Homo sapiens: one gene and its partners. The protein of the gene in region 4 interacts with the protein of the main gene of each other region in a biochemical or structural test. Each region holds a gene or a part of one and is shown on either strand. Other genes may lie near its edges.

Region 1 (3,797 bases), on a different chromosome or scaffold from region 4:
AACTGTGTATGCTGTACTTTTAATGGCAAAGGGATTTTTCAGAGGATAATGTCTATTATGAGATCTCCTTACTTACCAAATTCTGAGTCATTATAATCTTTGTGGAAACTTTGACTCCACTATATTTATGCAAAATGCATTTTGTTAAAATCTAGGCAAAAGAGACTAAAACTCCAGAGGACTGAATTTATTTTAAAAATATGATAAACAGGTAAAAAACTTTGCATTTAGGATACCAGGATCTTTGCACTTGTCATATTCTAGTACAGATCTTTTAGGCTAGAAATGTCAACTAGATCACTTTCTAGGCCCAAAGAAAGAACATTCATATTTGCCTTTTCGTCAGGAGGCGACTAAGAAACACTACTAGGATATTTAGACTGAGATGCAGCATTATCAGACTGGTTGTGCAATAGGCTCCCCGGTTCACACTGCGTGGTCAGTTGCCTATCCTCCTCAGATTGGGAGCTTTATATAGGCAGACTATGCCTGCCTTGCTCACTGCTTTCTCCTTAGAACGAGTCCCATGCCTGGCACACAGAACACACAAATATTTGAATAAAGTGAATGAGTCTTAGTATATGCTTTTAGAATTATTTATTCAAAAACACTTTATAATAAATTCAGGTAACAGTAAAGTAATACATTCAATAGTACTAAAATCTATAGAAAATAGATAATTTCATTAAGGTGCAATTAAAATACTTGAAATTGGGACACATCTCTATATTTCAAACCAATATACTGGCTTTCTTTTTAAAAGACTATTCTAGTCTTTACGCTGTCCAAAGTTTTTCCTCTTTGCTTTTATTTGCTTTAGACCATATTTAAATTTTTAGCATTCCTAAGTGCATACATTTTAGGCATATACTATAATGACCAAGAGTTTGTGAACCTACTGATTAGGTAAACACTTTGGGGAGGTATGACCTGCACAAAGTAGGGTGGGAAAGCTATTATCTCCCTTAATCTGGACACAACTGTTCAAGCAGTCTATAATTTATTAGCTTCTCTGATAGCTTCACTATTTGGTTTTCATTGACCTTTTGAGCAACTGACTGGCAAACCCCAGATTCTTTTCGCCTGAAATCTTTTCAAGTTAGATACTGTCCATATTACACTTGTACTTATAATTTACTATCTTCTTGCCTTGGACAACTTATTTCTCCAAATTCTGATTTCTCCAGCAGTGTATTGGGATAGTATCACTAATCTTGCAAAGTAAAGATCAGAAATGCTGTACATAATATGGGTCAGTGACTTAGCATACAACAACTATTCTATGATTAATATTTTCAAAATCTAACTACTCCTCATTTGTCCTTGGCAGTTTTCTATCTTAGTCATTTGCAGAAAGAGTTCCAGCTTGCCAAAACCTTTTTTTTTTTTTTTTTGAGGCAGAGTCTTGCTCTGTCGCCAAGGCTGGAATACAATGGCAACCCTGTCTCTACTAAAATTACAAAAAAAAAATCTTTTATAATCTTAATTCTGTCATCTGTGAATTAGTTATTTCTCCTAGGCTTGTGATCTGTATGTAAATTTGATAAACTTTTCAAAGCCATTGATTAGAATACTTGAACAGAACAGGAGCCTCATAGCATACCATGCAAGGCTAAAGAGTAGATTAATGATGTTATTCAAAGCTCTCTGGATGCAACAACTAGCAAGAATTAGCTACAAATTCATTTATCTATACTATTATCTAGTTGATAATTTCTAATTTCACCCATGAAGATTTCAGGGCTTTCTTAAAGACATTTTAAGTTTACTGCATTTCCTTGATTTACTATAGTAATAAAACTACCAATATATACCAAATATTCATTTAGGCAGCTTGTAAGAAAAAGATACACCAAGGTAAGTTTGTAATTTGAAATGCAAAGTAATATTCTGAACAGTTCTCCAGAAGTCAAACCAAGAAATTTATAGTCCAAAAAGTTCTGGAGATTGGTTTTAGGGGAGGGGAAGGTGAGGAGATCAAATATGAATGAGTGCCTGCCATTGGCAATAAAAAGAAATGCCAACTCTTCATAAGAAAAAAATTTATATAACCTTCAAGGTCCAAATACGAGGAGAAAGCTCAATCACCCATTTGTTAATCTCCGCAGCTGGGATGAACATTTTCCTAAGGATGGAGAAGAGATTATACTCACTAATACACGAGTCAGTAGTTTTACTTTCAGGTGGCTTTTTATCTGATGTTTATCTTATATGATGACAGCTGGGGGACAGAGAAATGTTCCACTTCTACCTATGTATCAAACTAGATACCTAAGCCCTTCCCTTCCAACAGAACACAGAGAAATGCTGGATAAAATGTAGAAAACATTCTTTTAAATACATAGCAGAACTTACAAGAAAGGGGAAATCCTTACGGTCAAAAATGAGGGGAATGAGGCCGGGCGCGGTGGCTCACACCTGTAATCCCAGCACTTTGGGAGGCCGAGGAGGGTGGATCACGAGGTCAAGCGATCGAGACCATCCTGGCTAACACGGTGAAACTCCGTCTCTAATAAAAATACAAAAAATTAGCCGGGCGTGTTGGCACACGCCTGTAGTCCCAGCTACTCGGGAGGCTGAGGCAGGAGAATTGCTTGAACCCAGGAGGCAGAGGTTTCAGTGAGCTGAGATCATGCCACTGCACTCCAGCCTGGGTGACAGAGCAAGACTCTGTCTCAGAAAAAAATGAGGGGAATGAAAAACCAGAGAGGTGAATATGTGAGCTGATGCTGTAGCTGTCCTGGAACAATTTGCCAGTCTCATTAACCCACGGCTTTTAGCTTAGACATCTATATGGGGAGCAAAGAACCCAGGGCTTGCCAAAGGCAGGCAGTGGGAATTAAATGTACCTCCTTCCACCCCTGCCATAAAGGTGGGACACATGGAAGCTTATACTCTCAGTGAAAAAGGCATCAATCAAATATTCTGCCCACTAGCACAAGGAGATGAGGAGGAAGTGTGTTTGCCTTGGCCTGGGAAATCTCCTATCAGTATTTATGCTACACTTCAGGTATGGAAACCCTAAAGCCAAGAAATTAAAATAAGAATGGGCTTGTGTGCAGCAACAGCCCTGGGAATATGACATAAACAGACACTCAAGATTCCCATAGATAAAGCCTTGCTGAAAATAAACTCACTTTTCAAAAAGACAAAACTGGATGAACAGCCTATCAAATACAAAAATCAACAGATATAAACAGCAGGAACTAAATTTAATAGAACTATTACAGTGTCTATCAAGTACAGACATTTAAAATAATTAGTGACATAAAAAACATTAAAAAAACATTAAAAATGACATCAAGAAACAGAGATCTGAAAAATGATGCATAATTAGAAATGAAAAACAATTTCTGAAAGAAGAAGCCCAATGGATAGGGTAAAAGAGATTATATACATCTGACAAGAGAATTCATGAACTAGAAGGCAATCTATGAAGTTATCACAGAAAGATAACATACATGGACAGTACAGAAGGGCTTAAAAGATAAAGAGAATAGAATGAGAAGTTTTAATACACACTTAAAAAAATAGTAACTACACTAACTGTGTCTTTGAAATTTGTTCTCCATAACAACTTCATTATTTAGTAACACTGAGTGATCTTACTAGGAAAAATCCAAATACGTTTCTGTTTTTTTTTTTTTTTTTTTGAGATGGAGTTTCGCTCTTGTCACCCAGGCTGGAGTGCAATGGCATGATTTTGGCCCACAGCAACCTTCACCTCCCAGGTTCAAGAGATTCTCCTGCCTCAGCCTCTCGAGTAGCTGGGATTACAGGTGCCCGCCACCATGCTC
Region 2 (7,261 bases), on a different chromosome or scaffold from region 4:
TGGATGAGATACTAGGAGAGTTATCTTCTATCTATCTTCTCCTAGACAGAAAAGAGAACATTAGTGTACTTAATACAAAGAACACAACATCAGACCATTAAGACTCTTAACAACTAATTTATTTTAAAATAGACAAACTATTAATTGTAGAAAATAGTAACATAGCAATTTTAAATGTACAGTTTTAACCAATACAAAAAAGCAATAAAGCAATAATATCTGAAGCATTATTTAAGAAATCTCAATACACGATCTCTGAAGTTCCTAAAATTCTGGCACTAATTCTAATGTGAACTTAGTAGCAAAAGACCCAGAAATAGTAAGCCCTTGACCTAAAAACTAACTGATTTGTATGATATTCATGCAGAAACAATGATGAAATGGAGTCAAGTTTTCTAGTGTCATTGTTATCAAAATAACTGTCAAAATAGTAAGTTTGAAACTTAAATGAGCACAAAATAAAATTTTGTTTTCTAACAAGACCAGATTTCTTTTTAAAAATAATTCTGAGTTAGACAAAGTGATTTTCCTAAAAGCTAGCTGAAGCTACCTTAAATATCCCCTATTTTAAGTTACAGCATCTCTAAATAAGTTAATCACACAAGATAGTTTAAATACACCTTTAGGTGTAGGGGAGGGGAGAAGCGCCTCTTTTTCTAATGCAGCTGTTTTAATTTGAAGCTTTTGCACAAAATCAGATAGAAACATTAATGCCTAACCCATAATGACCCTTGATTACTTGTAATTTTGGACTAGAAATAATGTGGCTTTGAACATGCCAGTGTTAGACCATACTGACTTAAAAAAATAAAAGATAAATAGACAATTGCCAGTTCAAAAGATACATGGAAGACATGTACCATTCCAGAGAAAACACAAACCTTCCCAAATTAAGGAGGGCAGAATAATTTTGAGATGCAATTAGACAAATCTCTATGAAAAAAAAATTAAGGCTCCTATAATTAACAGTCTGTTTATGGAGTAAAATTAATTTGTATCTTAATTCTTCAGGACCCAGAAACATTAGAAAGTGCACTTGGGATATACTGTGTTAGGGTCCTCTATACCTAAGATCTGGCAGAACACTTTACTTTTTCAAGTACTAGATGGGTACTTTATAAATTCAGTGATCTGAATGGTATAAAAACCAAGAGTACTATCAATAATCCTCATTTAAAAACATAAGTTGGATGAAGAAAATAATCAGTAAGTTCTTTTACATTCTGAGGTATGAAATCTGTTTCAGTAGTATGATAGTATCATATGGTTATACTTTGCTTCCAGCTTTTATTTAATTAAAAGCAAAATTTTATAAAACAAGCACACAGTATATCAGATTCCAATAGTAAAATAAAATCTAATGTGTAAAATTAGTAATTTTTTTCTAATTTCTAATAATATCCATTTTTGCAGAAGAGTTCAGGATAATTTTGGTGAATGGGCAGTCAATCAAATTGCATTTGGAAGATAGATAGGACACATTTTCTAAGGGTGTTCATGTTAAATTAAAAAAATATACATATAAATTAATAAAAACAAGAGCAAACATCACCTATATGCTACAAAAGAAGGCAAAGTAGTCAGACAGGCCTGGGTTATCAGGACTCCCACTCTAGGGCCATTCTTACTATCCATAAAGCACAGCAATTTTACTTTGGAAGAGGAAACAATCTGCTACAACTTTTTAAATGGCAGGATTTACACAAGATTTTCAATCTTGTATAAATAACAATGACTAACATTTCAAGTGGCTTAGGAATCACCCAAACAATTGCATCTGCACATTTTATATCCACAAAAAGAGCTGAAGATATTAAATGTGGCCATAAACAGAACCTGGGAAAGTTATACAGTCACATCTGTGAGAGACAATGAATCCAGAGGTGTACACAGTGTCCACCAAGGTCCTGAGATCCTCATTTCTCTTCCTTGTTTGAGGTATCCATGCTATCATTCATTTTCTGCTTTTGCATTCGTGTTCGAGTAGAAGCTGGAAAAAGGATGAAGAACTGTTAACAGCATTGATGGTACTGGGTAAGTTGGCAAGTGGCTGCCATATATATTATGCTCATGTCAAACTGATGGCGCTCAGGACCTTGCAAAAGCAGTGGTCTTCATTCTAGTATTTGACAGTACCGTAGGGAGTTACAGTTAATTTACTGCATATTTCAAAATAGCTAGAATTGTAATGTTCCCAATGCAAAGAAAAATGTTTGAGGTGATATATATCCCAATAACCCTGATTTGATCATTACACATTGTGTACACGTATCAAAACATCACATGTACCCCTAAAATATGTATAACTATGATATATCAATTAAAAAAAAAATTCCCTCCCCACCCCCCAAAAAAACAGTGGTCTCCAAATCTTTAAAAATCATATATCCCTGTGAGTAAATTTTTTTCCAAGCCTGTACCACAAAAATACGTATGTATGTACAAATTATAAAACACATACCCCAAGCAAACATTAAAATGAGATAAATAGAACTTCTACTTTATGTACCCCAAAAGATGACTTTGCATACTTCAGGTATGCCCCATTTTGTAGGCCACTATTCTAGAGATGAGGTGGTTGATGCTTGGCATATACTTCAGCAGACTAGAATACTCGGCTGGCCCAGACTGAATCTGCCAGAGTGAGTGGTGGTATTCTTTACAAAGCTATAGGTTCCCTTATGTTTGCAGATGCCTTGCAGGTACTGCAAATACATCAAATCATAGCTCATTTAAACTGGGCATGGATTTTTTTTTTTTGAGACAAGGTCTTGCTCTGTTGCCCAAGCTGGAGTGCAGTGGCATGATCATGGCTCACTACAGCTTTGACCTTCTGGGCTCAAGCAATTCTCTCACCTCAGCCTCTCCAGTAGCCAAGACTACAGGCACATGCCACCAGGCCTGGCTAATTTTTGGATTTTTTTGTAAAGATGGGGTCTTGCTATGTTGCCCAGGCTGGTCTTGAACTCCTGGCCTCAAGCAATCCTCTCACCTTGCCCTCCCATAGTGCTGGTATTACAGACATAAGCCATCATGCCTACCCGGGGCATGGCCATGTTAAAAGCATATTATGAATTACAATATAGACAAAGCCGGGATACTTATTAAATTTCTTAAAAATTCTTAACTTGATTTTAGAGGTAGGCATGAGTTCTTTATAAAGAAGCACATTTGGAAAAATGGAATGCCCTTCCATTCTGGGCAATCCAGCATTGTATGATGATCTTTTCTAAATGTAATTCTTTAAGAAAAGCTGAAGAGCATCCTAAAGAAATGCCTTAGCCTCAGGGGTTAAAATTCTGCCTGCTTTGTCACAATTTTGTAGATGCACAAAGGTCCTGAACTTTGGCCTGGCAGAGGAAGCTCGCCATCATAGCTAAGTGTGTCACTGGGAAATGTACTAACTATAGCAACTGAACACTTCTCTAAGAAAATATACATGTTTTTACAGCTTTCAGCTCCTTTTTAAGTGCATATTTGTGGGTTCCAAAATGTTTCCATATGTCTTCAAGGCCTGATTTTGGTTATGAGCCTCTTGTCTATTTTCATGTACTGAGGGGAAAAGATGCAACTATTTAAGAGTTAAAATAGGAATATGTAAGTTGACATAAAATCCAAAAAGAGATTCATTTATAACTAGAAAATTTTGTTTTAGTTATTTAGTTTTAATTACACTTTAAAAAAATACATAGAAAAAAAGCATCCTTTTAAATATCTTATTTTCAAAGTTAGTATCTACAAAGATGTATTAAAAGAAAGCCTCTCATTTTAATTGGTATTGTTCTCATTAGTGTGTCCTGTGACCTAGGAATGATTGTTTTAACACCTATCTCCTGAATATTTGTCTTCTTTCAAAATCCCAGTTCCTTTTCCTATCAATGGATCTGGCAGCAGATACTGGGAAATGTTACACTCACTACCATAACTACCTAAGACAACCCAATAGTAGTTAGTGAACATTTATCTCTTTCCTAATGTGCTTTCCATCTACTATCCTTGGATTATTTTTTTTGTCTAGTCTCAGAGTAGTTTTGAATAGAATTCCACTTACCCTAACATGATATCACTCTGTATAACTTGGAAAATGACATAAGTGTTCTTTATTAAAATTCTGATTTCCAGTAATGGAAACTTTTGTTTGAAATTGTTTTAAGATTTGCAAATAAGGAAAGTTTAAAAATGGTAGAATCAAAGGTTATTCCTTAAATAAGGGTGATGATGTTTACATATGCTAGGTTTATAAAACTTTTCCCTATATCTAACACTCCCAAATAGCTCCTCTTTGTAGTTCTGCTAAAGTATTTTCTAACTGTAGCCATTTGTGTTGAATGTGGTCAAGCAATGTTTCACTTCTTAGTCTTCCTGCATGAAAGATCATAGAAAGGGTAAAAATGACCTTCATTTTACATCATACATTTAATCCACAAATGTTTGTAGATAAATAACCTTGATTGAATTATATTTTAAATGCATAAACAAACCTGCCAACTGAAGAAATTATACATTCTTTTATATAACGAAAAGACTTCTTGCAGTGTAAACAATTGTTTATTTCATTTACACAAGGTGAAAAAAGTACTTACTCATTTCTGCCAGTTTCTGCTGAAATTTGGACTCTCCTGGGAGATGTTTACTGCAGATTAAAAAAATGCAAAACATTTCATGTGTATTTATAAATGGAAAACTCAAATTTCCAGTAACTATGATGCTTTCGATGACTTACTTTATGCTATTATTTTAGTGAGTAGCTTTTAATTTTAAAATTTAAAAACTAACCATCTAAAACATAAATGTCACAAATTTATGATGCTATGTATTTTTTCAGTGGTTCTCACAAAATACAGTGGTTAATATTTTTCAAGAGTAAACATTTTTAAATTTAATGTTAAGAATAACAAAATTTTATCAATAGCTTTGTAAAAAAGATCAGGGTTTATTAGATATCTTCACTGAATGTTGGTATGCAATTTGTAAGATGTTTTTAACTTTGCACTACACTCATATCTATTATTTTGAGCCATTCTCACAACTTCCAAATAAACTTGGCATGAAAGAAATTGGTATAAGCCAGGAGCAGTGCTGAGACTCTGGATTCCCCAGATGACCATCTCGGCTACTGGAAAACATTCAAAACTGGTTCCTACCTTCCATCTGCTTCATCTGATCCTTCAATATCAAAGCGTAGTTTTTTCAGTGGTTTAGGAGGGTTGCTTCCTTCAGCACTTCTTTTGAGCACACGGTCGCTGTTACATACCATCTGATTTATTTTCTGGAACTTCTCAGAAGTCTACAAATTACAGAATTCTTTACTTTAAATCATTAAATGCCAGTGTTTCATAGTTAGCAACCTCAAGTTATAGTTTGAGGTGTGTCAAAAATCAGGCAAAGGTAATAACTTCATTTAAATTTTCTGCTTCATTGGACCAAATAAAAGATATGAAAAATCTAAAAATCAGAATAACTACCTAATTCCATCCCCAATTAAACACCCACTCTTTGTAAATCCTCCTGTCTTTTCCCATGCAGCTCACATTCTTCCTCCAGCAACTGCCTACTCTGCAAGTCCTGGTTCCTCATTTTCAGAACCCACCATACAGGACTACTTTTCAGAAGTAGGCAAGTCAGAACAGCTTTCTGGAAACTTGCTTTTGTCCTTTTTTTGTTTTTTAGGCTATTATACAACCAGAAGGAAGGTCACAAGAATTTGATAAGAGATGATGTGTTCAATGAATAATAATTTTTGATTCACTTTATGGGTATTATGTTGACAAGTCATATAGACTTTCTGATAGAAATTATATCTGATTTGACGGATAGATTCAACAGTGAGGATTAGCTTTGCCAATTATACTTTATTTTCCAAAAATTAAACTAGCGAATTCTCCCAATATTAAATTCAAAACAGGTTTTGATGGTAAATCTATTTGGAGCACATATACAATTTAACAAAAACTAAATCCCGTGCTGCTATTAAATGTATAATATTTTAAATTATCAGCTTTAAGATATGGAAGTACATTCAACTTTTTCCCAATTATTTTAGAGGTTATGGCAAGCAAAAATGTTTGAAGACCACTATGTGATACCTAGCCAGTTCCAACTGTCCTTATAAGGTCCCATAGCTCCTTTGTAAAGTCTGACAGCTGAGCCCATCGTGAACTATTTGTAACACACATTTTAATATTTGGTCATCTGGCATATAAACTTTTACCTCTCCCTAGTTACTTGAGGCAGTGTGGTGGGCAGCCTCTCAGATGGCTCCCAATGACCCCACCTCCTGGTATTCACCTCCTTGTGTGATCCTCCTCCCCTCGTGTGTGGGCTAGATCTACTGTTGTCTTGCTTCTAACCAAAATAATATGCCAAAAGTAATGGGCTGTCATTTCCAGAATTAGATTACAATAAGACTGTGACCTCTCTCTTGCTCTTTATTTCCCTGCCTCCCTCAGAGTCCCTGCTCTGGGCAAAGCAAGCTGCCATGTTGTGAATAGCAAGCAGTACTATGGAGGGGCCCAAGGGCAAGAAACCAATAGAGGGGCCAATAGCCATCGAGGATCAGCCAACAGCCATTTGAATAAGTCTGCCAGTGAATGCTCCTCTAGTGGAGCCTTGAGATGACTGCAGGCCCAGCCCAACTGACACCTTGATCACAGACTTTGGAGAAACTCTGGCCCAGCTAAGTCATGCCTAGATTATTGACCCACAGAAATGGAGATAATAAGCGTTTGTTTTAAGTCACTAAGTTTGGGGGTAATGTATTATGTAGCAACACATAACATAGGCAGTCTTCCCATTCCTATAAGAATATAAGCTCTCTGGCCAGGTGCAGTGGCTCACATCTGTAATCCCAGTTCTTTGGGAGGCTGAGACGGGGTATCGTGGAAGCCAGGAGTTCAATACCAATCTGGCCAACATAGAAAACCCTGTCTCTACAAAAAATTTAAAAATTAGCTGGACATGGTGGTGCATGCCTGTAGTCCTGGCAACTTGGGAGGCTAAGGTGAGAGGACTGCTTGGGCCGAGGAGTTTGAGGTTATAATAAGTAGGTGACAGAGTGAGACACTGTCTCTAAAAATAAAAATTTAAAAATTAAAAATATAAGCTCTCAGGGGAATGGAGATGGTGCAACATATTAACAGTAATGCATATTGAATATGGGACTGCTGAATTAGTGACTTTAATGGAAGGCCAACTAGGGTTGTGGATTTGCAGCCTAGAATAAATGTTTCAAAGCAAAGCTTTCCCTTGGATCTCCTAGAAT
Region 3 (7,261 bases), on a different chromosome or scaffold from region 4:
GATCTTCTGACCTCGTGATCTGCCCGCCCTGGCCTCCCAAAGTGCTGGGATTACAGGCGTGAACCACTGTGCCCGGCAACATATTCTGTTAATATATTTAAAAAGCATTACCACTTATGACTGGAAAGAAAAAAAAAGTTCTCTCCAGAAGTATCTGTCTTGTCTTTTCCCCTCCCAGAATGAGTATTTTTGCTTTTACCTTAATGTTTGAGGGGGGAAATGAGTACATATGAGATCCCAATAAGAAACCAATACAAAAAGTTTATACTGAGCTAAAAAAAAAAAAAAAAAGATACCTTGACTATGAAATTTTAAGGTTATTTTTATTTACAACTTTTGAAAAATGTACATTTTTTTTTACATGGGTTACTTGTGCAAAGTTAGATTTGGAAGTGATAAATGCATAAAAGGTGACAATAGAACATTAGACAAAACATTTACAAGCCTTGTCCCATACTGCTACTTAAAGGTACTATATATCTAAAAGTATAAATATCCAAAAAAAGATCGCAGACATTGGCTTTAAGGTTCTCAGATGCTGAAAGGGAAGAAATTAAAGCATGCAGCAATAACTCAGGATTTGAGTGGAAAATAGTTTGCCACAGATATGCTATGCTCCCTTCCTTGAATTCATTAAAACTCTAAAATAAAGATGGACAATTGAGTTTATTCACTTAGGGCAGCACTGATCCTTTAAAAAGATTAAAGGAGCTCCAACTTTCCCTAGCTCAAAAACTCACGATTGTTTCCATTCCTCTGCTCCCACACCTCTTTTAAAAAGCAAAAACCCAGAAGACCAATAATTCTGAAACTTGGCATGAGTGTGCCCAGTCAGCAGCTTGCAAAGAGAGGATGTGTCAGTTACTACAATTGCTGTACTCCTTTAGCTGAGTCCTTCAACTTTCTCCTTCTTGCCAGTAAATACTACGTTGTAATTCATATGACTGAGATCTTAGTATCACAGGATTTTTAGCTCCCATGCCTCCTTCAAAATTGTTTACATGGATTTGTTTCTATTCTCTGTAGGCCATATTCCAAACACATTCACTTCTAAATCCAACACAAGTGAAGGACCAGCCAGGATGAAACACTTCAGCAATCATTTTGTTAAAAATAACATCCTGGTCATCAAGCTAAGCATAAGCACCTCTTGTATAACAATTCATCTTAAAAGCTTAAAGTACAATAATAAAAATAACTGCCTGAAAACTGGAAATGAAATACAACAGAAAAACTGAAGCATTAGTAATTTTTGCAAGTAACCCAGGTACAGTACATTTGATTTCATAGAGGGTGTTTTCTGATGTTTAAGGAGAGGGTAGAAGGGGTAGGAAAACTTGGCAAGGAAGATGGAAACAGCACAACAGTTATTTTGCTTTTAATAAAGTAAATGTAATGACAGGAGTAGGGAGGTGACAAACACATCAATATATATTTTTCTTATGGCCAGCTTCTTTAAACTGTACCCGGGGTCAACAATCACGCCAGCTTTGTTCTACTATTGCAGAAACACGCTTTTCATATTCCCGTTTGTTCTCCTGGTACAGCTGAGCAGCCTGGCTGTTTGCTGGACTATTGGGATTGGGTTCATCCAACAGAGACTAAAGAGACAATTTTTAAAATGTCAGTTCCTTAATGCAAAACAACTATTTTATAAGGTAGTGACACTCAATTGAATTGTCCTAAGTACAGCTACATTTCTTGTCTTTAGCATACAAACCCAGAGTTATGTGAATCTGCTAGTAGCTAGGAAAATATATGCGGCTTTTTTTTTTTTTAAGGGAGAAGAGTCTCACTATGTTGCCCAGGCTGGTCTCAAACTCCTGAACTCAAGCAATCCTCCCACCTTGGCCTGCCAAAGTGCTGAGGTTACAGGTGTGAGCGACTGTACCCAGCTGACTTGGGTCTTAATGGTCTACTTTTCATCTATAAAACAAACAAGCTTTGACCAAAAATAAAAAGATCTATTACATTATGACTTTCAAAAACAATTCAATTGCTAATATAAACATATTAAAAGTTATAGTTCGTCACATTAAGGAAAAATTCACCTGTATGGATGTTAGAATGGAAGACACATCATAGGTTGGACTCCAACGGTTCTGAAGTATGTCCAGACATATACTACCATCTGCATAGACTAAGAACAAAGAAGTAGGTACATTAAACGTAACAAGACCACTAAGGTTTTAACATTATAGACAAAACAAAAATAGTCAAGAATACTTTGCTTTTGAAGTTTAAAGATTCCTATGTTGCTTCCCAGTTAACTGCCTAAAAAGATAAGTCATAACCACCACTAGTGAAATAATCAGGATGATCAGAGAATGTCAGATGTGATCAGTATAAAACTGGAAGATATTTAGTGTTCATCCTTTGGAAAAGGCTGCCCTATTATCCAGGAAATCAGAAACATTTTTGAACAGGGTCCCTAGCTATCCACAGACATGTGGGAAATTCATTCCACCAAATTTGTAGGCTGTATCCCCTATCTGAAATAACAAAAGATCACTCAGAGTTCACAAGATTTCATTTTGGCATAAAGATAAACATATCTGATACCCTGAAAAATACTTCATTAACCTAAATAAAAGGCAAGCTGTTCTAGGCTTACTACTATTTTAAAAAGTGCAAAGTGGTTAAGTTAGAATCACCTGTGGTGCTTTTCTGACAATACCGTATGCCTGGCCTTCAACAACAGAATCCTATTCATTAGGTTTGGAGTGGGGCGAAGGCATCTGTGTTTTTAAAATGTTCCACAGTAATTCTGATATGCGTCCAATGAAAACTACTTTTCTAAACGCTAGTGAAAATAATTACAACACAAGACTATCCCAATCTGGCCTAGCATTAAAAGGAAACCTCAAGAGCATCCTTCATTTTGTTTAATAAGTAAATGACAAAGGTCATCAAAATCAGGAGGCTCCCAGACTCCAAGCAAAGGGAAAATACCTCCACTGCTTCAGTTCTAGGACAAGACAGCCACAGACAACCAAGAACAAGTTCAGCTTTCAAGAAGCAGCAAGCTGCCTAAACAAATACTCAGGCACCACAAAATACACAGGAAATGTGGAATACTCCATAATAAACACTATAGTAGTTTAAAACACTGTACTAAAAGTGATACTTGCCATTTGGATGGAACATCTTAGAGACAAATCTAACTGTAGGTGGTTTATTTGGATATTCTTCAGTGAATTCTATTGTAAGTTTAAATGTTCCTGTGGTTAGAAAAGAAAGATTTAAGAAAATGTATTTATCACTTTGTTCAGTAGTACTTTGTTTTTAATGCTATGTGGGTTTTTCCAAGTATTAAATAATGCAAAGATACAGGGTAGAGAGGAAAGGCCAGGTAAGAAATACATCTCTAGGAATTGCTCTAAGAACTACTCAAATGTGATTTTTTGTTTTGCCATTATTTTCCCCCAAACTTGGAGACAGCCATCATAAACACAAAATTACTGCTTACAAGATTTTAGCCACTGTACATTTTGAAAACATCCTTAAGAAACTGGGCCCAAAATTTGGCCTTCTTCCTTTAGAAGACCAAAAGACCTCAAAGGCCTATGTTAGTCAGCTGCCATCTTAAACGCTCCAGTGATTTTTAGACAGACTAGAAAGAATGAAAGCACAATGGTTCAAAAACCAATGCCAGAATACAAATCCATAATCAAGTTATTTTTAAAATAGAAGGGAATAAGTATAAAAGTGTTCATACTGGTTCCTTTTCATGTCATAGTGACCCTATAATGAAAACTTAATTGAATTTAAGCCAGGAAAAACTTCATAGTCCCTCTCAGAAACCCTTAAGTATGGCTCATAAGGTACTTCACTATAAAATCAACTCAATTATTCACACATATGGAGGGAATTAATGGCAGAAATAATTTTAAAATCACATTTGGTTTAGATTGCATTCATGTTTCCAGCAAATTTATTTTTCTAATGTTTATGCTACTATTGAAATGAAATTATTTTTCTTAAATATATGTCAACCTAAGGTAGCAGGAGGCCCTAAAGCATAGTAGGTTATAAACTTACTTACAAGGCATGGACAAACTGGATCTCATTCAAGAATTGTTAAGATGTGATATGAAGAGATTATGTCCTTTAAAATATTATTTTCAATTGTTTGTTGAATAAATTGAAGAACACAATTGAGCAATGTTTTTTCCTGACTGAAATCTGTTCAAGTAAACTTAGAAGAATCAGTTACTATATGGTATAAGGTGATGCATGTTCCACTATATTACTCTGGTCCATTTAACAAATTATTCTAAAACAACAGACCATACTTCAGTGTATTTCTTACTGGTTCCTTCAGAGTTAGCAATTTATTTCCTTTTTGTTCTCATTAAAAGGTTTATCACTGCTTAAGAAAGAGAGAAGACTATAATCATTCTAGGACTAGATCTGTGACAAAACAGTATCAAAAAGTTTGTTTTTAGCAAGCTCATTGGAAACAATTTGCTAACAAAGCTGCCCTTACTATGAACAAGTGTCTCAAAGCTTCAAAATAATATAAAATGCAACATACAGAGACATTATATTCCTCAAATTATTGTTACTCCCTATTTTCTTTTCAAAGCCAGACCTGAAGATACTATGTATTATAACTAAGAAAGTAAAATCTTATGGAATGGACAAACATATGCCCATTAGAAGTATGGAAGTATGTCCATCAGAACATACTTCACCTTTATCACCACCTGGTCATAAATCTTCCTCTTTCTGAGGAAGAAAGCACAGTTCTTCCTTTTCAGTATTTATTGACACTATAATATGCAAGAAAAAGTGGGAATGTGTTAGAGTTCAAAACTTTGAGTTTCCTTATGTATTATGATCTCAAGTGTAAACACATTTGGATCAATGTTGCAATCTGACTAAATTATGGGTAAGAGACACTGCTCTAAAACTGGGCAGATGTAATAGCACATGGAGATCCCAGCTACTTCAAAACCATCACTAAATATGGTATCTAAAGGTAGTAAAGCAAGACATAGGGAAGCCATAAGCAAAAACAGTAAAACACACTGCTAAGAGCATGAGCTCTGCAGTCAGACAGGTCTGGGCCCAAGTCCTTGCTTTGGTACTTACTAGCTGTGAGACTTTGGGGAAGGTGTTCTCCTTGACTAAACCTTAAGTTCCTCATTTGTAAAATGAGATTAATCATAGTACCCACCATATAGCATTGTTGTGAGGTTTAAATGAGAGGAATATGCATAGTTCCACAAAGTTAAGTGCTCCAAAACCATGAGCAACTATTTTTGCTATAATAATTCTAAAGTTTCACATCTCTAGACTCAGCTGAAGGAGGCAAAACCCAAAAATCAGAACTATCAGTAAGAAATATACAATTAAGGCATTCAGATATTAAACAGTACTTTTAGGTCTACATCAAACACTCACAGTTCAAAGCAAGTTGAGTACCTATATTGGTGGCTCACAAGTTCCTTGACTTGAGCTTTCTGCATACACTTGCCCAGAAGTTCAACTAAGTGATTACCTAGCTACCAAAGAAGTTAATCGCAAGTCTTTTAAAACAGTTCACTTAATATCTTGAGAAGTGAAGCAACCTATTTATGTCTACTTGAATATAAATTAAGACAACCCAAATCTTATTCAAGGTACACATTAAAAAGAGGGTAAAAACTTCACACTTTTAGTCACACTAATCAGAACCTGTTTAGTATAACCTTCAATGTAATTTCTAAGCTCTAAAACAAATGTTAAGGGAATTTAAAATCCCAGAATTAGTATTATGCAGTCTTGAGACTACAGCTTACCCTCTGAATATTTAGAAGGCTAGGCTTTAAAATAACTGAAAATTTAAGCCTCACCATTGTTGTACATAATGTATACTAATTTTGTTCATCTTCCCGAGGAGGCTAAGACATCGTAAGGAAAGTATCAATTAATCCATCTATACAGGGAGACCACCAAAATTACATAAACGTGTTAAGTGACTGGTGTATGGCAATAAGGAGTGATATGGTTGAACTAGAGGGGGTATATGTTCTGCCTAAAGACACTCACAAAGTCAAGTTTTGGAAAATACTGTGTTGGCCAAAGAAAACACACCTGCAGGTGTTTTCTGCCATTTGGCCACCAGTTTGTGACCCCTGAGAAGAAAGCAAAATACATATAACTTCAAAATTATTTTTGATGACTGAAAATCGATTTTTCAAGTAATATCCAAAACTCTTCATCATAGGATTTATTTATATTTAAAACACTCTTAGTGGACTTTAGAGATTCATTTTGAAAAAGATTTTATGACTCAGAAACATTTCCAAAAATTAAAAAAAAATAAAAACGATTTATACCCCAATTCTAAAGAACACATCTATTATGAAAAGCAAATACCAGTACCTTACCATGTCTATTAACAATTTTTAGATTATGTGATGAAGATTATATTCCATAACCTTTGTATTTAGCATGTATACCAAGATATTCTGATGAGGAAGCATTTCTCCCCAATGTTTTGGTAGTGTAAGCTCTTGAGAATATATTCCTCTTACTTCGAGTGTGTGAAGTTAAACCAAAATACCCTTAAGTGTTGCTTGTCTTAAGATTTCATCACTCTAACTAGGACCTGGTTGTTCCAGAAACTTCCATAACGAACGGTTTACAACAAAGAAGCAAAAGTAGTTTTGGGGTTCTTAATTAATAACATAATACATTGGAAACAGCAAAATCAACTATGCCACTTATCCCTAATCAGTCTTTTCTCTAACTGTAAATTCCCCAACTATAAATAAAGGGTATTCAAAAAATGGTTAAGGCTGGGCACGGCTGCTCATGCCTGTAATCATAGCACTTTGGGAGGCCGAGGTGGGCGGATCACCTCAGGTCAGGAGTTCGAGACCAGCCTGCCCAACATAGTGAAACCCCCTCTTTACTAAAAAATACAAAAATTAGCTGGGCATGGTGGTAGGTGCCTGCAATCCCAGCTACTTGGGAGGCTGAGGCAGAAGAATTGCTTGAACCTGGGAGGCAGAGGCTGCAGTGAGCTGAGCTCGTGCCACTGCACTCCAGCCTGGGTGACAAGAGCAAAACTCCATCTCAAAAAAAAAAAAAAAAAAAAAAGCTAAAATTTTTTTTGTGGGGGAACCACAGGCCACAGTGTTCCAGACACCTGAGGAAGCATCCATCGGTAGCAGACTGTTCAACAGAACAAATCAGCCTGAGTAATTCCTTTCAGTAATGCTAGGATGGAGATACACATCATCAAAAATAGAACCAGTAATGTCAAAGG
Region 4 (4,747 bases):
CAGGGTACCGCTGCCACTGGGACCACTAGGGGTGGTAAGCAGTCAAAAAATTAAGGCAAATCCTCCCGGCACCGGAGCCTCATGGGAAATGTTTATTAAGAGTTTGGTTCCTGGCCGGACACAGTGGCTCACGCCTGTAATCCCAGCACTTTGGGAGGCCGAGGCAGGCAGATCATGATGTCAGGAGTTTGAGACCAGCCTGACCAACATGGTGAAACCCTGTCTCTAAAAATACAAAAATTAGCTGGGCGCAGTGGTGCACGCCTGCAGTCCCAGCTACTCGGGAGACTGAGGCAGGAGAATCGCTTGAACCCGGGAAGTAGAGGTTGCAGTGAGCCGAGATCGTGCCACTGCACTCCAGCCTGGGAGACAGAGTGAGACTCCGTCTCAAAAAAAAAAAAAAAAAAAAAAGGTTTGGTTCCTGCCACCACATCAGTGGTTGCTGCCTCACTGACATTGTGGGATCTTCACCCCGTTCCCTTGGACTTGACCTTGAAAAAGTGGTTTGATGCCGACTTTTATTAGGTATGAAGACCCACGAGGAGAGTTTTGCCCCTCTGATAAGGAGACCGGGTGGCCTTTAGCGCAGATATCTAGAGAGACGATGCGGAATTACTTGGCATCTACTCAAGAGCCCAGGCGAAGGCTACTCCTGGAAGGGGACCGCGCTTACGGAGGCCTGGCTGACCTCCACCCGTGACCGGTGCGGCGCTCCTGAGACTGGCGCTCTCCAGGGGCGAAGGTGGCCGCGTCTCTATGATGCAATATCCTGCGTTTTTCCCACCCTCGCACCGCTGCCCCAGGCCATCGGCACTTTCTCTGCGGCCCGATGTCCTCCCCTGCCGCGGCCCGCGCTTCCACCAGCGTGCCCGCCGCCGCCGGCCCTACGCCCGAGGTCACCGTGGCGGCCCGCGTCTCCTTCTCCAGTTCGTCCTGGTCCAGCAGCGGCGGCCCCGCTTAAGTCCCGGGCGCCAATAGGGTCCGAAGGCGCCACCGCTGAGACGCACGCGGCCCCTGCCGTGGCCATAGCACTGTCGCCAGCGCCTGAACCAACACCGCTCCGCACCGGCTCTGGCGCCAGCCCCAGTCCTGCCTCGGTGAAGGATCCGCCCGGGGCGCCTGCAGCGCGCTGAGCCCAGGGGCGCCGCTCGGTACACGCCGCACCGCTCCCGAGGCCGATTGCAACGAGGGAAGTCACCCAGCTGAGGTGTCCCGATCTGTGCATTCGAGTGGTGTGGGGGTGAAGCCGCTGAGAAGCGGTCCGCAGGATCCAGTTCAGGCCGGCCTTTGGCCAGCGCAACCGGGAAACTAGCTCTCTCTCCGAGAACCTCCTAACCATGTGCGGACCAGGAACTACACTTCCCAGGATGCAGCCCGAGGAGTCCCGGCATCCCCCGGCCATGACAGCCAAGGACGTGGTCAGACCGGGGTCGGTGGGAGCAGGACAGGCGGCTCCGCGACGACCACCACGCTCTCCCCTTCAGGCCCAGTCCGGGATCCCTGCCGGCCGTTAAGTCTGAGCCCTCCCAGGCTCACACCAAGCCAGCAAAGTGCTGCTCAGCTGCTGCAGCTAAAATCGGGGGACTACATTTGGGGTGCGCGGCCTGGCTACTCTGGCTGCAGGCCGAGGGTTGAACGTTTATTCATCACAATTAACAGCCTATACAAGCATCTCTAGAACAGAGGCTGTGGGTCCAAACGGGTCCCTGCAGCTCCAACCCTCTGGCCTCTCCGGGCACTGCCCTCACAGCCGATGGAGCATGGCTGGGCAGGCAGACAGGACACAGGCTCAGTCACAGGGTGTCAGGGGGAAGCTCTTCTAGCTGGAATGATTGGAAGTTGGCCCAGCGGCTGGGGCTGGTCTGTCCCTTCCCCTCCTGGGAAGTTCCACCTCCACTGTAGTTAAGGCCACCAGGATGAAAGCAGGGTTAGGTCCAGGGACCCAGTAGAGCCTTGGGATGCATGAGGTGGGGGTAAATGGGCTTGGCAGAGAAATGGAGATTGGGAAGGGGCCTGATTAGAATAGAAACTGATGATGTTGGTTCAGCACCTGCAAGATGAGGAAGGTGACTGCAGCAACCTTAGAGCTTCCCAAAGGAAGCAAGTGATGCCCCCATCTGCCAAGAGGGTACCTCCTTCAGCCCTTGGCACAAGAGCCAGACCAAGGTGTCCAGGGAACTCCACAGGACAGAAGCCCTGCCGAGGTTAGGGGGATGGTGGGTGAAGGAAAGTCTTCCTGGGGCCTGCAGCCCAGTCTCAAACAAGGAACAAGGACATGGCTCACTGGTCCTCATTTGTGAGCCAGTAGGCAGGGAGCGAGCCTTCTCTAGGGTAGATCACAGCCTGGGGAATTTTCCTTAGGGTTAGGATGCATCCACGGAGACAGACAGGTTAGGGCCAGTTTCCGGGAAGCTCAGTCAAGTGCTCTGGGCTCCTCAGGCCTCTCAGGCAGACCTTTTCTGTAGGGCAGTGCCCCCTAGGCTGCAGCTCTGACCTTTAGGAAAAGATGGAACGAAGCTTGGCTGATCCCATGCCCACTAGCATGCACCAGGGTCCCCAAACCAACTAGATGGGCAGGGGCTGGGCCCATGGGGTCCGGAATGGAGGGTGGGGCCACTAGACCTGGGGTGGGGAGGAGATGGGGGCACAGCCCCCAGGGTCCATGGTGTTCCAGAGTCCCCTGAGTTTCAGGTTCAGCTGATGTAGATACGATGGAAGTCGTGGGCACCAAAGGCCGCGTTGCACTTGGGGCACTTCCTCTGGCGGGCCTCATAGCGGCCCCGCACGCACTCGAAGCAGAAAACGTGGAAGCACTTGGTAAGGACTGCATCCTTCTTGCGGGTGTTACAGCAGGGGCAGGTCAACCGCGCCTGGGCCAGGCAAAGGCATCAGCTTGGGAACAACTCTGACAGTGCCCAGACCCCAAGCTGACAGCAGGAGGAGTCCAGGCCAAGCCCACCACACTGGAGACTGCACCTCATCCTCCCATAACCCTGGAGGTAAGGACGAGCACTCTATGAATGAGCAAACTGAGGTGCAGAGGCCAAGGTCTCAACACTAGAAATCAGCAGAGTCCGGATTCATCACTGGGCAGTGATGGCTATCATGTGTCCCCTCAAAAGGACAAGGACCCACAGGCCCAGCCTGGACTCTGCCTTGGGGCTTCATCTCCTGCCCCACTGGCCGCCTCTGGTGAAATCCCAATCTTGTCTACCTCTTCACCTGCACTTGCTAAGTCACAGCTGGAATGGCAATGCAACTAGAAATCTGTTCTCTCTACCCTCAACTGGGCCCAGCCTCGACACTGGCCAGAGACCCTGCCGTGGGTCCCTTCTTAGCCTGAGACCTCTCTTCCGCCACCAGGAGGGTCTCACCTCCAACTCCAGACATGGATTGACTCAACTCAGCATCCCCCAACAGTGCTCCTCCAGCCTGCTAAAATCCCAGCCCAGCCTGCCGCCTCAGCAGCCTCCCTGCCATCACTCCTGTCTCCCAGGACCCTACACACCAGCACTGAACAGGCTCCCAAGCCTGCCTCTACCCCATGGCTGCCTCCAGCTGCCTCTGCCCTTCAAGGCTCAACTGCTTCCAAGGGATGACCAAGTCATATGTGGCTTCCACCTCTGCCTCTACTGACATTCCCCAAGCCTGTTCTCCAGCCCGGCCCTTTTGCCTTGAGCACCTTCCCAGCCTCCCAAAGGGGTCCCACAGGCACCTTCTCAGCATCCTTTGACACCATCCCATAGAACCTGCTCCCCCGCAGGCCTCCTAACCCCCTAAATGGTACTAACTATCCACCTAGTTTCTCAAACCAGGAAACCAGGAGTCCTCCAAGTGTTCCCTTTCCCTCACTCCATGCATTCGATCCACCCCCGAGTCCAAGCAATTCTGCCTCTGAAATGTCTCCTGAACCCATCTACTCTGGTTTCTGCCTCAGTGACTGCAATACCTTAACAATTTCCCTGCCTCCAGTCTACCTCTTCCAGCCCAAAACCAACAACAAATCTAACCACATCACTCTCCTGTTTAAAACCCTTTGAGGTCTCAACCTGGCGTACCGCACTCTTCAGGAGGTGACACGGCCCAACCTCTCCACATTGGCTCCTCTGATTACAACCTCCGGTGCTGTCCCAGCAACCCCTCCGCTCAAGCGTCCACATCTGCTGTTCCCTTTGCCTAAAGCTACTCACTCCCGTTCCTCACAGCCACGTCTGGCCTATTCTTCAGGTCTGCTGTGGTGACATTCACTCCAGGAAGCCTGCTGACCCCAGGGCCAGGGGAAGGGCCTCCCCTGAGTCCCCTCAGCCCCTCTGGCCTCTGCCATCATATTACACATCTGGGATGAGAGAATTACTTGGCTGCCTCCTCCCCTGACTGTCAGTTTCAAGAAGTCAGAGACCAGGGCCAGTTCCTAGCCTCCCAACCCACACCCAGCCAAGCACTGTGCCTGGCTCACAGTACATGTACAGCAAACAGCATTTGACTCTGTGACCACTGTGCTGCCCACTTTCTGCTGCCCTACATTACTTCCAGGGTCCCCAGACTCTCCACTAGTCTCAGCAATCCTGCATCTACAATTCTCAGGTGGATAGGGCACAACTTGGCCCACAGCCCCACCTTGTACTCCTTGATCTCCTCCTGGAGGATTTCGTCGGCATCTGCGTAGACCTCCACCTTCCTCTGCTTTTCCAGCTTGCGCCGCAGCCGTGAGATGTCCTCCTGGGGCAGGAGAGGCCTGGCTAAGGGC

Evidence for each region.
Region 1: of the proteins of RNF40 (region 4) and ATM, one has a biochemical effect on the other in vitro, tested with the Homo sapiens proteins (one study listed by BioGRID).
Region 2: the proteins of RNF40 (region 4) and RB1 form a complex in vitro, tested with the Homo sapiens proteins (one study listed by BioGRID).
Region 3: the proteins of RNF40 (region 4) and UBE2A form a complex in vitro, tested with the Homo sapiens proteins (3 studies listed by BioGRID).

What each region holds. Positions count from the first base shown.
Region 1 is NC_000011.10:108,365,886-108,369,682, reverse strand, and holds the end of ATM (serine-protein kinase ATM), read right to left. Parts: 3' UTR 581-3,797; downstream 1-580.
Region 2 is NC_000013.11:48,474,727-48,481,987, reverse strand, and holds the end of RB1 (retinoblastoma-associated protein), read right to left. Parts: intron 5,539-7,261; exon of another isoform or gene 5,466-5,538; intron 5,288-5,465; coding exon 5,145-5,287; intron 4,634-5,144; coding exon 4,584-4,633; intron 2,010-4,583; coding exon of another isoform or gene 1,991-2,009; coding exon 1,917-1,990; 3' UTR 98-1,916; downstream 1-97. UniProt on the Homo sapiens protein: Tumor suppressor that is a key regulator of the G1/S transition of the cell cycle. The hypophosphorylated form binds transcription regulators of the E2F family, preventing transcription of E2F-responsive genes.
Region 3 is NC_000023.11:119,577,467-119,584,727, reverse strand, and holds the end of UBE2A (ubiquitin-conjugating enzyme E2 A), read right to left. Parts: intron 3,222-7,261; coding exon 3,132-3,221; intron 2,141-3,131; coding exon 2,052-2,140; intron 1,602-2,051; coding exon 1,473-1,601; 3' UTR 305-1,472; downstream 1-304. UniProt on the Homo sapiens protein: E2 ubiquitin-conjugating enzyme that accepts ubiquitin from the ubiquitin-activating enzyme E1 and transfers it to a E3 ubiquitin-protein ligase. In vitro catalyzes 'Lys-11', as well as 'Lys-48'-linked polyubiquitination.
Region 4 is NC_000016.10:30,772,061-30,776,807, reverse strand, and holds the end of RNF40 (E3 ubiquitin-protein ligase BRE1B), read right to left. Parts: intron 4,720-4,747; coding exon 4,618-4,719; intron 2,871-4,617; coding exon 2,694-2,870; 3' UTR 501-2,693; downstream 1-500.